Regions from separate parts of the Homo sapiens genome. Here region 2 is linked to region 1. The links come from fine-mapping of genetic effects on gene expression. Tissue or cell type: monocytes. Region 1 holds a variant in brackets; the other region holds the start of a gene. All regions are shown on one strand. Distances are from middle to middle.

The links. PIP is the estimated chance that this variant, and not a neighbour inherited with it, causes the effect. A credible set is the group of variants that fine-mapping cannot tell apart.
Region 2: ENTPD7 starts here. The variant in region 1 is the best candidate, but not a certain one, in a credible set for the expression of ENTPD7 in monocytes (Quach 2016, PIP 0.57).

What each region holds. Positions count from the first base shown.
Region 1 is chr10:99,623,101-99,631,281 of GRCh38, reverse strand. It overlaps LOC105378450 (a long non-coding RNA gene), which reads right to left and starts at 6,500. Exons shown (of 5, transcript XR_007062264.1): 1 at 6,263-6,500. It also overlaps a transcript of SLC25A28 not described here. The variant T/C (reference allele first, on the strand shown) is at 4,572.
Region 2 is chr10:99,655,616-99,663,796 of GRCh38, reverse strand. It overlaps ENTPD7 (ectonucleoside triphosphate diphosphohydrolase 7), which reads right to left and starts at 4,288. Exons shown (of 13, transcript NM_020354.5): 1 at 4,209-4,288; 2 at 3,833-3,935; 3 at 2,169-2,351. The coding sequence starts at 3,840. It also overlaps a transcript of SLC25A28 not described here. RefSeq lists silencers at 4,060-4,279, 4,400-4,609.

The DNA of each region.
Region 1 (8,181 bases):
AATCTTTTTTCACAGAAACCAGTGACCTTTTCAAAATGCAAAATTGACCATGTTGCCCAACTTCAACTTAGAATTCCACAATGGAATCCCATTGTTCTTAAAATATAAACCAATCCCTTGAAACATGACTTTCAAAGCCTCTCAAGGACTGCTCCTTACTTACTTCCTAGGACTCAGACATGCTTCATCTGGCCTCACAAACACTGTTCTTGTCCTGTGACCACAGGACTCCTGCTATTATGTTTTCTTTGTCCAGAAAATTACTCCTTCCCTTACTCCTTCCACTACCTCCCTTACTCCTTCCACTATCCCTCCATCTGATGTAACCTAATTAACTCTTCTTATCTTTAAAATATTACTTCAAATGTCATTTCCCTTGTGCGACATAACCCCCTAGGCTAAGTTAGGTCCCCTTAACATATGATTTTAGTATATCATGTGCCTTTCCTTCATCTCACACATCCCAGTTGTAATTTTACATTCATGAATCTTTGGTTAATGCCTGTCTTCCCCAGAAGACTTTAAGCTCCACCAGAGAAGAGACCATGCGTGGATTTATGCATCTTTTATCCCTAGGACTTCGTTTAAGGCCTGGCACATATTGAGAGAATAAATGAATTGGCTAGCACTATTAAGCTTTGCTGCCCCCTGCTGAGTCATGGCTTTTAGCCTATTAAACTAGCACCAATTGGATGTTCAGAACTAGTGTGGTGATATCATAGCAATATTTTTCAAAATGTGGTCCAGGGACCACCTGTGTCAGAATGACCTGCTTATAAAATGCAGATTCTCATGCCTCACTCTGAAGATGATTTTTAGGCCTATGTTAGGGTCAAAAAGTTTGCATGGGCCAGGCATGGTGGCTCATGCCTGTAATCCCAGCACTTTGGGAGGCTTAGGTGGGTGGATCACTTGAGGTCAGGAGTTCGAGACCAGCCTCGCCAACGTGGTGAAACCCCGCGTCTACCAAAAATATTTTTAAAAAATTTGCCGGGGGTGGTGGTGCGCATCGTTAATCCCAGCTACTCAGGAGGCAGAGGCAGGAGAATTGCTTGAACCCAGGAGGCAGAGTTTGAGTGAGCTGAGATCTGTACCACCGCACTCCAGCCAGGGGTATAGAATGGGACTCCGTCTCAAAGAGAAAAGAAAAAGTTTGCATCCAAGCTCCCCTGGATGATTTGAGAGCCACTGGTATGAAAGGAAGGAAAGAAAGGAAAGAAGTGGAAGAAACTGCTTTACAGTCTCACTACCCTTTTTTTCCCTCTTCTTTTTTGAGATGGGGGTTTCCCTATGGTGCCCAGGCTGGTCTTGAACTCCTAGGCTCAAGCGATCCACCCACCTTGGCCTCCCAAAGGGTTGGGATTACAGGCGTGAGCCACTGTGCCGGGCCAAATTAACCATTTTAAAGTGGACTATTCAGTGGCATTTAGTACATTCACAATGTTGTACAACCACTACATCTACCTAGTTCTGACTCATTTCATCACCCTGATAGGAAACCCCATCCCCATTAAGCAGTTACTCTCATTCTCCCCTGCCTGCTGCATCTGGTAACCACCAATCTGTGTTCTGTCTCTATAGAGCTATCTATTCTGGATATTTCATATAAGTGGAATAATATGTGACCTTTTGCATTTGGCTTCTTTCAAGATTCATTCACATTATAGCATGTATCAGTTCTTTGTTTCTTTCTATGGTTGAATTATATTCATTGCATGTATACACAATCTATTTATCCATTATTTGTCTGATGGACATTTGGACTGTTTCCACCTTTTGCCTAGTGTGAAAAGTGCTGCTGTGAACATGCACGTACTTGCTTGAGTACCTGTGTTCCATTCTTTTGGAAATTGTCTTAGTCTTGTGTTGCTATAAAGGAATACCTGAGGTTGGGTAATTTATAAAGAAAAGAGGTTTTTTGGCTCATAGTTGTGCAGGTTATACAAGAAGCAGGGAACCAGCATCTCCCCAGCTTCTGAGGAGGGCCTCAGGCTGCTTCTGCAGAGATAATATGACAAGAGATGAGGCAAGGGGCATGGGGCAGGAGGTGCCAGGCTCTTTTTAACAACCAACTCTCACTGAAACTAATAGAATGAGAATTCACTCACCTGTCCCCCACAGAGGGCATTAATCTATTCATGAGGGATCTATTCCCATGACTCAAATACCTCCCAGTAGGCCCACCTGGAACACTGGAGATCAAATTTCATCATGAGATTTGGAGGGGACAGACATCCAAATTATAGCAGTCATATACCTAGGAGTGGAATTGCTGGGTCATATAGTAATTCTATGTTTAACTTTTTGAGGAACTGCCAAACTGTTTTCCATAGTGGCTGAATGATTTTACATTCTCACCAGCAATGTATGAGGGTTCCAATTTCCTCAGTGGTTGTTATTTTCTTGCTAATGGTTGTTATTTTCAACAATGATTGTGGTGGGTTTTTTTGTTTTGTTTTTGAGTCAGAATTTTGCTCTTTTTGCCCAGGCTAGAGTGCAATGGCGTGATCTCAGCTCACTGCAACCTCTGCCTCCCGGGTTCAAACGATTCTTCTGCCTCAGCCTCCTGAGTAGCTGGGATTATAGGCATGTGCCACCACACCCGGCTAATTAATTTTTAGTAGGGACAGGGTTTCTCCATGTTGGCCAGGCTGGTCTTGAACTCCTGACCTCAGGTGATCCACCCACCTTAGCCTCCCAAAGTGCTGGGATTGTAGGCGTGAGCCACTGCAACCGCCCAATGATTGTGTTTTTTCTTATAGCCATCTGCATAGGTATGAAGTGGCATAGCCAATAATCTTTTGACAAAGGAAAATGAAAACGTTTTTACTGCAAGCCTGAATAAACATTCAAGAAAATATAAAAGACAAATTTGTTTTTGACATATTTTCCTTTTACTTGATGGCATAATGTTGATCTGTGAAAACATGTAAACATGTACTTTCCCCATACTTCTCCTAGAAGTAATGCAAAATATAAAATTGAAACTCAAGTCGAGACATGAGTAAATGAGGAGTATTACTCAGCTTTTTCTTGTTTCTGACCAGAGAGGGATCATTGCCCTTTATTACTTCCCAGCATAAAAATAAAAATTGTAAGTCTTACATATCATAGTCCCAAGAGAGATAGGCCACAAACCTTGCCATAAATGTGCCACTTAAATGAAATAAGGCTCTCTCACCTTTAATATTTAATTATGCTCTCTTTACTTTGCTCTCAGGAGAATCTCCCTCCAGAAGCAATGTATTCTTTGATAATAGTCAGAGATTGGTATCGGTGATGTAAATAAAAAACTCACTGCTCTGTTCTCACTTATTTGTGGGATCAAAAATCAAAACAATTGAACTCATGGACATAGAGAGTAGAAGGATGGTTACCAGAGGCTGGGAAGGGTGGCGGGAACTTGCGGGAGGTGGGTAAGAATTGTTAATAGGTCCAAAAAAGAATTGAAAGAATGAATAAGACCTACTGTTTGATAGCAAAATAGGGTGACTATAGTTAATAATAACTTAATTGTACATTTTAAAATAACTTAAAAGTGGGCAGGGTACGGTAGCTCATGCCTGTAATCCCATCACTTTGGGAGGCTGAAGTGGGAGATCACTTGAGCTCAGGAGTTTGAGACTAGTCTGGGCAACATAATGAGACCTTGTCTCTACTAAAATTCAAAAAAATTAGCCGGATGTATTAGTGCTTAACTATAGTCCCAGCTACTTGGGGGACAGAAGCAGGAGGATCGCTTGAGCCAGGGGGGTTGAAGCTGCAGTGAGCCATGATCACGCTACTGCACTCTAGCCTGGGTGACGGAGCAGTATCTTGTCTCAAAAAAAAAAAAAACAAGATGAATAAATAAACAAATACATAAATAAAGAGTGTAATTGGATTGTTTATAGCTCAAAGGATAAATGCTTGAGGGGATGGATACCCCATTCTCCATGATGTGATTATTTCACATTGCAGGCCTATATTAAAACATCTCAGATACCCTATAAATATACACCTACTATGTATCCAAAAAAAGACTTTTTTTTTATTTTTATTTTGAGATTGTCTCGGTCTGTCGCCTAGGCTGGAGTGCGGTGGCATGATCTTGGCTCACTGCAACCTCTGCCTCCCTGGTTCAAGCCATTCTCATGCCTCAGCCTCCCAAGTAGCTGGGATTACAGGCATGCACCACCATGCCCGGCTAATTTTTGCATTTTTAGTACAGACAGTGTTTCACTATGTTGGCCAGGCTGGTCTCGAACTCCTGGCCTTAAGTGATCTGCCTGCTGTGGCCTCCCAAAGTGCTGGGAGGTGTGAGCCACCATATCTGGCCATAAAATTAATTATTTTTTTAAAAAAATACAAAGGGCAGGGTTAAAGAATGAAAGTGACTCATCAGACAGACAAAAGTGGAATAAGGAATCTGGGGAAGAAGGACTAACGGTGGGACTGAAAACTGCCCTCTACTTATATTTTCCTCAATAAATGAGAATTACAAATTAAAAAAAAAAAAACACTGCTCCACTGTACCATATTTATGTACACAGAATATCCCACATGGGCTGAAATTTCCATTCTTAAAGCCA[T/C]GTTTTGCCCTTAACAGGAATATATGTAAGTCAGGGAAAGACATGAAGTCTACTGTTATATCTTGATTGAAGGCTTTGCCAGCACAAGGATTGTTTGACAACCTGGGTGTTTTTATGCACCCAGCGAATAAATGATAATAAGATGAGAAGTGAGTCAGGTCACACTTTTCTTTTGTAAGATAAAAGGACAGATTGAGAAAGGGGAGAAAGGAAAGAAGAATTGTTTCAACGGCTTTTTCAGGAAGAGGAATTTTAGGAAAGAATTAATCCAGATGAGGAGTAGCAAATTAATTCCCTTGAAACAATGTTTCCTAAATAACCCTTGGAAAGTCTTCCTGTACACAGTCTCCAGTTTGAAAACTAATGAGATAAATAATGATATCTCCTGATCCTTTCAGTCCTCACTGCTTACCCCATCTCTGAATTCCTGTAGCTCTTATGTTCTGTTTCTTCACCATTTAGGAATCAGTTTCTTTTTAAGTGGCTGTAAGGTTAGCAGTCTTATTTTCATGTGTGGCTGCTGGAATCAATCTCATTTTATACTACACTCATATCACATGCCCAGGTATGATGGCAGTTCAGAGAAGGGGGTAGTGTAAGCCGGACGCAGCAGTAGGACCTGTTTTGAACCTTCAATAATGAGAAATTTGATAAGAACAAAGGGGGAAATGCATTCTAAGGAAGAGCAGCTTCTCTAGGATATAAATTCACCTGCTGTAACAAAGATTCCCATTAACAGCAATTGCTTAACAAGCTTTCTCATGTCTGAGCACAAGTGGTCTGAGGTGATAGGATGCCTCATGGTGTTAAGGACACAGGTTTCTTCTAACTTTTGCTCTGCCACCAGCTAAAGTACAGGCCTTGTCCTCATGGCCAAAAATAATTATCTTCTGGGTCTGTGTTCTGACGAGAAGGGAGAAAATGAGCAAGAGGAGAACATATCCTTTTCTTTTAAAGGTACAACCCAGGTGTTTCAAACATCACTTTCCCTCACATCCCACTAACTAGAACTTAGTCACACCTCCAATGTTGATTGCCAGGGAAGCTGGGGAAAAATATATGGGCTTTAGCTGGGAAGCCACATGCCCAAATTGAAACTTGAGGTTTCTATTACTAAAGAAAAAAAATGAGTGGTCTCATAGAGAGATGTAGAAAATTACAAGACAGACGGGAGAATGTGAAAAAACAATTGTACTGGGAATGAGAGGTGAAGCCAGCTGGGCTTCTGGGTCAGGTGGGGACTTGGAGAACTTTTCTGTCTAGCTAGAGGATTGTAAACACAACAATCTGCGCTCTGTGTCTAGCTAAAGGATTGTAAACACACCAATCAGCACTCTGTAAAATGGACCAATCAATGCTCTGTAAAATGGACCAATCAGCAGGATGTGGGGGAACAGGGCCAAATAAGGGAATAAAAGCTGGCCACCCTAGCCAGCAGCAGCAACCTGCTCAGGTCCCCTTCCATGCTGTGGAAGCTTTGTTCTTTCACTCTTCAGAATAAATCTTGCTGGTGCTCACTCTTTGGGTCGGCAATATCTTTATGAGCTATAACACCCACTGCAAAGGTCTGCGGCTTCAATCATGAAGTCAGCGAGACCACGAACCCACTGGAAGGAAGAAACTCTGGATACATCTGAACATCTGAAGGAACAAACTCCAGACACGCCATCTTTAAGAACTGTAACACTCACCGCGAGTGTCCGCGGCTTCATTCTTGAAGTCAGCAAGACCAAGAATCCACCAGAAGGAATAAATTCCAGACACTGGAATACAAGAAAACATGACTATAGTACCTGAGGAGTTGCAGGTGCAGGAAACTGCTGAGGGTTTGTGAAGAATATCACCAATAAAGTTCCTTGCCTACTTTTTTTTCTTTGAGATAGGGTCTCACTCTATCACCCAGACTGGAGTGCAGTGGCCCAATCTTGGCTCACTGCAACCTCTGCATCCCGGGTTCAAGTGATTCTCCCACCTCAGCCTCCTGAGTAGCTGGGATTACAGGCACACGCCACCACGCCTGGCTAATTTTTGTATTTTTAGTAGAGACAGGGTTTCACCATGTTGGCCAGGCTGATCTCAAACTCCTGACCTCAAGTGATCTACCTGCCTCGGTCTCCCAAAGTGCTGGGATTACAAGCATGAGCCACCGTGCCTGGCCTGCTTACTTTTATAATTTTTTAGGCAGGTTTAGTGCTGGTGAGATGTACGACAGTGTGTATGGGTTTGTGTGCAGGTTAGGTGCTTACTATTCAAAGTGTGGTCCAAGGTCTAGCAGCATCAGCATCACTTGAGAGCTTGTCAAAAATGCAGAATCTAGGTAGGCGTGGTGGCTCACACCTGTAATCTCAGCACTTTGGGAAGCTGAGACAAGAGGATTGCTTGAGCCTAGGAGTTCTAAGACCATTTTGGGCAAGATAGCAAGACCCTGTCTCTACAAAAGAAAGAGAGAGAGAGAAAGAAAAAGAAAGAGAGAAAAAAGAAAGAAGAAAGAAAAAGAAAGAAAGAAACAAAGAAAGAAGGAAGGAAGAAAAAAAGGAAGGAAGGAGAAAGGAAGAAAGAAAGAAAAAGAGAAGACAGGAAGGAAGGAAAAAAGGAAGGAAGGAGAAAGGAAGAAAGAAAGAGAAGAAAGGAAGGAAGAAAGAGAAGGAAGGAAGGGAGGGAGGAGGGAGGGAGAGAGGGAAGGAAGAATCTTAGGCCCCAACCAGACCTACAGAACTGCAGTCTGCATTTTAACAAATTCTTCAGGTAACATCATTTATCATCACAGAAGTACTGGGCTAGTTTATGCTATGGTGTGGAATAATCCTAAAAGCTCTGTGTCTTGAAACAACTAAGATTTATTTCTCACTGATGCTGAAGTCTGTCTGGGAGCAAGCAGGTAACAAGTAGGGAACTCTGCTTCATGTCATTCTCACCAGGGCCCCAGGCTGACAGAGTCTCCACCATTTGAACAATCACTAGTCATGTGGCAGAGGAGGAAATGTGTGACTCTTGTGCTTCCCTCGTATTTCACTGGCCAAAGCAAATCCCAGGGCCATGCCTATCTTCAAGGAGGTGGAAAAAACATCCTACTGTGTACCTGGAAGGAGGAGAATCAAAATACTGCTGAAGCTAGGGGATCCTCGAGGCAGGCAGGCCTTTCAAGGGGTTATGACAATACAGATGTAATCAGATTCAGGGAAAGTATATCAATACGAAGGAAAAGGAGAGCATAAACAGAAGAAACAGTTCAGAATGATGATGATTCTGAATGGGCAGTCAAGGAAGACTCCAGCTTTAGAGTCTCATCTATTGGGCAAATAATGAAGACTTTCATGGAAAACGAACATTTTGGAGGAATGGGTTGGGGTGGGGAGTGGAAAGGCTGAGCTTGGAATGGACACGCTGAGTCAGAAATCAAGGTGGATATTCACCCCTTGTTTATCTTTCCAACTTCGTGTTGTATTCCCTCCCCACTCACTCACCATGCTCCAGCCACACTGGCCTTCTTTCTGTTCCTCATGCACCAACCTTGTTCTCACCTTAGGGTTGTCGTACCTACTGTTCCTTCTGCTGGCATGCCCTTCTCCAAGTCTGTCATGACTGGCTCCTGCCTATCATTCAGAACTCA
Region 2 (8,181 bases), 33 kb before region 1:
CAAGAATCAACAAATCACAAGCACAAGAATCAGGTAAGCAGGGCACGGTGACCCATGCCAGTAATCCCAGCACTTTGGGAGGCCGAGGCAGGAGGATAGGTTGAGCTCAGCAGTTTGAGACCAGCTTGAGCAACACTGCGAGACCTCACTTCTACTAAAAATCAAAAAAATTAGCCAGGTATGATGGCATATGCCTGTAGTCCCAGTTACTCGGGAGGCTGAGGCAGGAAGATAGCTTGAGCCCAGGAGATTGAGGCTGCAGCGGGCTATGATTGCACCATTGCACTCCAACCTGGGAGATGCGCGAGATAGTCTCAAAAAAAAAAAAAAACAAATAAAATCATGTAGAAAACAACATCAAAGCACATCACAATCAAATTGCTTAAAACCAGTGATAAACAGAAAATTCTAAAAGTATTCAGAGGAAAAAGATACATTCTATACAGAGAGAACAAAGATTAAAAGGACAGCAGACATCTCAGAAAGAATGCAAGCCAAAAGACAGTGAAGCATCATCTTTAAAGTAATGAAAGGAAAAAAAATGATCAACCTAGAGTTCTATACCCAATGAACATTTCTTTCAAAAGGAAAGCAAAATAGGGACTTTTTCAGTCATATAAAAGTTGAAAGAATTTATCACCGCATACTTGCTCTACTAGAAATGCTAGAGAATGTTCTTGAGGTAAAAGCAAATATGGAAATATGGATCCAGATGGAAATATGGATCTACACAAAGGAATGAAGCAGACCAGAAATGGTAAATATAGACAAAAGTGACTCCATCTTGGATGTTAATCTGCCACATTGACTTCTGACTAGCCTCAGTCCCGTAAATGCCTCTTGATTCCTGCTTTATTTACTACTGTAAGAACATGTCAACCTTGGTGTTGGCACACAAATGACAGGATATGGCACATGCAGCATTCTTACCTGTTCTGGAGGGCTGTCTTTAATTGTCTTGCACAGGGTGCATATACCATCTCCCTGTACTATATAAGCCCTGGGTCTGGGGAGTAACAGTATGGAGATCTATCTGTCTTGCAGCTACCCAGGGCCACGCTTCTGTCTGCAAATTCCCTCAATAAATCAATGAATACCAACGAACAATTTGCCTGCCTCCTCCTTTGGTTTCTCCGTCCCTTCAGCATTCAAGGGTCACTTTGCTTATATGACCCTTTCAGGCAACAATATGGTTAAATACATAAGCCTTTTTTTCTTATATTGAAAATCTCTTCAAAAGACAATTGACTAACACAAAAATAATAACAATATATTGTGGAGCTTATAACATGTAGAAATAAAATACATGACAGTAGCAGAAAGACCAAGGGGAAGGGAGGAATGAAAGTATACTGTTGTTAGGTTCTTGTTCTAGATGTGAAGAGGAGTAATATTACTTGAAGGAAGATTGTGATAATTAAAGATGACACTATAAACTTTAAAGTAACCACTAAAAAAAGAAGAAGTTATATCTAATAAGCCAACATGAGAGATAAAATGGAAACATAAAAACTGTGCTCAACTGAAAAGAAGAGGGAAAAAGAGGAAAAAGAACAAGAACAAATGTGACAAATGAAAAACACATAGCAAGATTAAAACTAAACATACTAAATAATCAGATTAAATATAAATGGCCCGAACACCCCAATTAACTGCAGAGATAGTCAGATTGGATAAAAAAACAAGACCCAACCAAACACTGACTACAAGAAGCCCACTTATATAAAGACACCAATAGGCTAAAACTAAAACTATAGAAGAAATATCTGTCATGCTAATGTTAATCAAAAGAAAGTTGGAGTAGCTATATTAATACCAGACTAGTAGATTTCAGAGCAAAGTATATAATCAAGGATAAAGAAAATCATTTAATAATGATAAAGGGGTCCATTCATAAAGGTATAATACAGTCCTAAACATTTATACACACAATAAGTTTCAGCCCACCAAAACAAGAAAACACAAAGATGCCTTTCATGCAGTATCAGTATTCCTGTACCAAACTGCATATTGCCAAAATAGGGCTTAAAATCTTCTTTATGTAATAAATGGCATGCAATTTTACTAATAAAAGTACAGTATCACCCAAAAGGGTCAAAGTCAGTAGTGTGTTAAACAGCTTATGAAAATATTTATGACTTGAGTGCCAAAATCTAAAGCTGACTCACCTTTCGTATTGCCTATCTCGTGGTAATGAAGCACTCCAATGTCGAAAGTCTATGATTAACATAAGTAAAAGGAGACAGGATATGAAGAAGAGTCCCAGGAATGCCACCCGCTGACGGAGAAATGGACTCACTGTGGGCACAGTGAAGTACCAGGAGGCTGGGCAGAGGTAGGAAAAACTGATCCTGAAATTAGACAAACATTAGTAAGTCTGAAACATTTCTACAACTGAGTGCTTAAATATCGTTTTAAAATTGGATAAAACCCTCCTAATAAAGGCAAAAATCCATGCCAACAGAAGTCTAAATGTTCTTGTCATCTCTAATTTTAGAAGAAGCTCATGGTGCTTCTACTATATATATCAGAAAAGCCTTATCTGCCCTTTTTCCAAACTGCACTTTGAGTGCAATTCAAAGACTTAATCTCATGTTAGTGAAAAGATCACCAGTCTCCCTGGGCAACCTCATAACATTGGAGAATCAGAGCAACTACAGTATTCCCAACCAAGAATTCTGTCAAGAAACAGGATGGTCAGAAAATTTATTTAACTGATTTTAAAAATGTTTTACCAGATTATACAAGCACATAGTAAAAGACAAATCAGTTTAAAAGGATATATTGTATAGTGAAAAGTGATTCTTGCCCTGACCCCACAATCTCTCAGAGGCAAACATTACTACCCAGTTGCTGTGTAATTTTTTTTTTTTTTGAGATGGAGTCTTGCTCTGTTGCCCAGGCTGGAGTGTAGTAGCGCAATCTCAGCTCACTGCAACCTCCACCTCCTGGGTTCAAGCGATTCTTCTCCCTCAGCCTCCCCAGTAGCTGGGATTACAGGTGACTGCCACCACACCCGGCTAATTTTCGTATTTTTAGTAGAGACCGGGTTTCTACTTGGCCAGGCTGGTCCTGAACTCCTGACCTCAGGTGATCTGCCTGCCTTGGCCTCCCAAAGTGCTGGGATTACAGGCGTGAGCTACTGCACCTGGCCGTTGCTGTGTATCTTTCCAGGGATATTCTACGGATACACAAGCATAAATATACACCAATATATTTACAGTAATATATCTCTGTGTGTGTGTGTGTGTGTGTGTGTGTGTGTGTGTGCGTATCCATTCCCTCGGTTTTACACAAATGGTAGTCCACCATACCTGCTGTTCTGCATCTTTCCCCCACTTTATTTTATAACTTTCCCTTATTGGTGCATGTAGATCCACATTAATATTTTTTAAAAGCTTCAGGTTATTATAATGTATGGATAAGTGTATTCATCTGTGAAGTTCACTTTGTATATTGATTCAAAAGGACCTCGGTCTGTCTGCTTTTAAAGTTCACTGCAAACAAAAAACAAAAAAACTTCTTTGTTTAACCTCCTCAAGTGGCACCTAGCCTTGCTCAGATGCGAATCTGAATCAATGTTACAACCTTGCACTTTACAGAGCTGAGCAAGCCGACTCACTCTACCACTCCTGGTCTATGGGCTAGAAACTATTATTTATCAGCCCTCGAAATAATACAACTTTGATCGTCTCTGCATCCAACTAACCAGAATACAAAGTCCAAGTGCAGCTCCAGGGCAAACCTCACTTGGGACAGCCTCCCAGGGCCCCCCAACCTGCCTGCCATCCTCTGCCGTGCTCCCAGCCGGAGGGAAAGTGTGCAGCCTTACCTAGCCATGGGTTCCCTTCGGTGGTCTCAACGCCTGTCACCTTCTTTTTCTTTTGCCCTGAGAAGGTGGCCTCCTTGTCCCAGGCATCTCCTACGTCTGCAGCCTAGAAAGATTTGATTTCAGGCTTCTGTCCGACTGAGCCCACGAGACAAACCTGCACGGGAATTCCACGGCTCCCACCTCCTCCCCAGGCTCCCGCTCCGTCTGCTCTGGTTCCTCAGGCCCAGGGGACCCTACCCGGGCATCCTGGGAGCGGGGCGTTCTCGTGGGCCAGCTCTGTCCTCTAGGAACCGGTCGTCCCCAGGTGGCGGGGTGTGGGTCCCGCTTCCTCTCCCCGTCCCTCCGGGTCCCACAGCCCTCTCGCGCCCACACTCACGGGATCAAGCGGCCCGCCGGTTCCTTCGGCACCTCTCGGTTCAGTCCCGAGCTGCTCCCCGCGGCCCCTTGCCCAGCCGGAAGGAGGGCCCGGCCGGCGGCGGCGCCACGTCCCCAAGGAAACCGCAGGGAGCCAATGACTGACAGAAGACTCACGGAGGGGCCGGCTCTCCACGAGCCGAACCGGGGGCGAACCAGCTCGGTCAGCAGCACGTCCGTCCGCCAGGGTGGCCAATCCCCTAGAGCGCTCGGCCTCTGATGCCCGCCCCGGGACTTTGAGCCGCGCCCAATCGGAAAGGCGTCGTACCGAGGCTCCGCCTGCAGGGCCCGCGGAGAGCTCACAGGTGAGTGGCGCTGGGCGGCCCTGTGCCCGCTTCCCTCCCTGGGGCGCGAACTCTCGGCTGGTTGCTTTCTCCACGGCCGCTCCTGGGACAGAGTAGCTCCGGTAGGTGGGTTCAGGGTGTTCGCGACCGAAGCGCATCCCTTGCCCATAACCTATTGTTGGTTTTGTGCCCACTGACCCTCCCTACCAGAATGGCAGTTCTCTCACCTTAAACCTTCCCTATCACCTCCCAAACTGATGCCCCGACCTCACTGTCTTGCCCCGTGAGAAAACAGAAATCGAAGACAATGACGTTTACACCAAAGTGCTTATGTCCATTCATTCATTCATTGAATGTCTGCTTATGCCAGTCATCATGAATTTCTGTGTCGCCGCCCTCCTTGACCTTACAGTAACACAAAGGAAACGACGCGCGCGCGTGGGTGTGTGTGTGTTTCTTTCTTGCTTACACCAGCCGTTATCTCATTTCCAGGAGGACGGCATAAAGTCCAAGCTCTTTCCAACGTGGCACATCCATTGCGCCCCACGATCCGCCCTACCGCCGTCCTCTGCCGCTACTTGCCTTCCTTACCACGCTCCAGCAACGCGTCCTGTTTTGCTCATTCTGCCCCTCCACCTGCCTTGAATAACCGTCCCAGCCTCTTAGCCAAATCACCTCCTACTCATCCCTTACCACCCATCTTAAGGGTCGCCTTCCCCTAAAAGCCCTACTTGACCTACTACACCTTTTTTATACATGCCTATTGTTTCACTTAGCACGTTGAATTACTATTATACGTATATGTCTGTCTGTCTGTCCCACTAGACAGAATATCCTTGAAGGCAGGGACTATTTGCTTCCACATATTCCCAATACTGGCCACTGCCTGGCAGATAAAACACAACTAATGTATAATTAATAAGCAAATGAATGAATGGGGGGGATCGGGGAGGAAGACCACCCAAATGCTTTATTTATTCAAAGCTTACTATGACAAGGGAGTCAGTCACCATCACTTGCATTTGGCCGACTCAAAGCCTGTCAGGACATTAGGAAAACTACTTACTTACTTAATTACCTACAGGGTCTCACTCTGTTGTCATCCAGGCTGGAGTGCAGTGGTGCGATCGTGGTTCACTGCAGCCTCGACCTCCTGAGCAAGCGATCCTCCCACCTCAACCTCCTGAGTAGCTGGCTCTACAGGCACGTGCCACCATGCCCAGCTTATTTTTTTTTAATTCTTTGTAGAGATGGAGTCTCACTATGTTGTCCAGGCTGGTCTTGAACTCCTGGGCTCAAGCAGTCTTCCTGTCTCAGCCTCCCAAAGTGCTGGGATTACAGGGATGAGCAGCTGCACCTGGCCAGGAAAGCTTAGTAGTGAACAAAAAGGGAAGGTTTCATGTATACTCTGACTTGAGGGTATTAGCATGGGAAAGCTGGAGGTGGGCTAACAAAAGTAGTGTCTCTTAGGTGATTGGTTTGGGGTAGGTAGCATATTTGGCTGTCTTTAGTGGGTTCTGAGTTGAAGAAAGGAGGCGGCAAAAAACAGGGAAACTGAGTCATTGACCAAGTCCTGATTATTCTCGGCTGGTTGCTGTAGAGGTTGTGGGTCAGAGTTCTAATTGTCATATAAGATCTAGCCATTGTCCAGTTTCTATATTCAGTTCTCATGACTATTGTTTTTTTGGCTCCACTACTCTCCTAACCTTGTTGAACTTCCTAATTTGCCTTTCTTCTTCAATTCTCAGTTCTCAGTTTTTTTTTCTCTGTCCCTCAATCCCCACTCTGCTTCAAGTGTTATATTTTATCTGGACCCCCAGAAACCACATTGAATAGAATAGTTGCATAAAGTTGGGATTAACCACAACATTATACAGATACCAGTTATTTTTATTATTTCAGAACCCAGTTCAGTTCCTAGAACAAAATAGATATGGAAAGAACTAAAATAATGTTTTGGAGTAATTTTTAAAAATTTCTTGAATTTACCTTCTGTGAGTTCTAAGTCTAATCTCTATACATATATATTTCAAACTTTAGTGTTCCACAAAATAGGTGTTTTTGAGTGGAAGTATAATTCCTATTTTTAAAATAGTACTTAATTCCTATGGTTTATGAACTATATTAACTTATAATTCAAAAGTTCATTGAAACATCCTCTAATTTACATTTCATAACTACATCATAAAACAGAAAAGACCTACATTTTAATCCCAACATTTTTTCATTATATTTTCTTTGTAAAACTTTCTTTGTCAGTCTGGTTTGGACAATACTTCCTTCAATAAATCCATATGCCCTCAAGCATTTGTCAAGCATAATTCTTTACAAAAACCAGCAATGCTTATCTGGTTAACAGCTCATAGGGCTGAGTTCCGAGGTTTCCAGTCAGCAGGGCAAATTAAAAAGCACTGAGAGTATTTCTCTATTTCATTTGCTGTAACTCAACATGTTGCAACAAGTTATAGAAACCTATGTTTCAAAACAGGTTTTTAACTGCTCTTTAAAGGCTTGCCTTACAATTACATTTGCAATTTTTCTCCAGATGTGCTTGATGCCCAGCCCTGAGCAAAATCAGCCCAACAGGTCCCATATTAGGTGCTAGTTGTTTGCTTTGCTTCATTTCCCCTTGTGGATTCTCCTTCCCTCCACACTCCATCCCACCCTACCCTCTAAAGGAATTTGGAGGAGTGTCATGTGGTCTACACTCTCCCTTCCAAGTTTACCCATCTCTCTTCACCTGTCTTTCAGGCACCCCATTGTCCCAAATAAACTCATTATCTCTCCACTCTCATCATATCCACCCAAACCTCCTCCATCCATATTCTCCATCTTGACAAAATACCCTGTGATTCACCAGAGCAGGAACCTGTATGGGAGTCATCCTAGAATATCTTCCTTCTAACTTTCTTTCTCCCTTTCCATCCAATGAGTCACTAGGGGTGCTTAATTCAACTGCCTAAAATCCTCTCCAAGATCTTCTAATGAAGCCTTCCAACTGGTGGCCCTGCCCCCAGACCCATGCCCCTCCTGAGTGCCCCTTGATTCTGTTACCATTGGGAAACCTCATCATGCTACTTCCTGATCTAAAATCCTTCACTAGTTCCTTATTTTTTTTTAGCCCATCTTGTGGTCCCATAGTAGTTTCTTATTCTGACGAGATATAGTCCAAATTCCTAAGCATGGTGTGGCAGATCCCACTGACAGCCTATTCCAGAAGTACCTTCTTCCAGAAGTTCCTTATTATTTTTTTAGCCCATCCTGTGATCCCATAGTAGTTTCTTATTCCAATGAGATATGGTCCAAATTCCTTAGCATGGCGTGGGAGATCCCGCTGATAGCCTATTCTAGAAGTAGGCTCTCTCTTCTACCTTGTTAGCTTGACAAGTAACCACACTGAATATGCTTGGCCATGTGCTTGAAGGGTGCTAGGCTCCAACCTCAGTCCCAGGAGATAAATTGTGATTGTCTAAGTCAATCATGGTGGGCCCATACCCTCACAAAATATTGGTTTAAATGGGCATATGGTACAATTTTAGCTAATAATATGAAAGGGAAGTCAGCTGTTGAGAAGAATGCCCAGGGAGGAGGGAAGACATTTCTAGGGAAAGTTTTCTTCATCTTAAAAAGAGATACATTCATACCAAAATT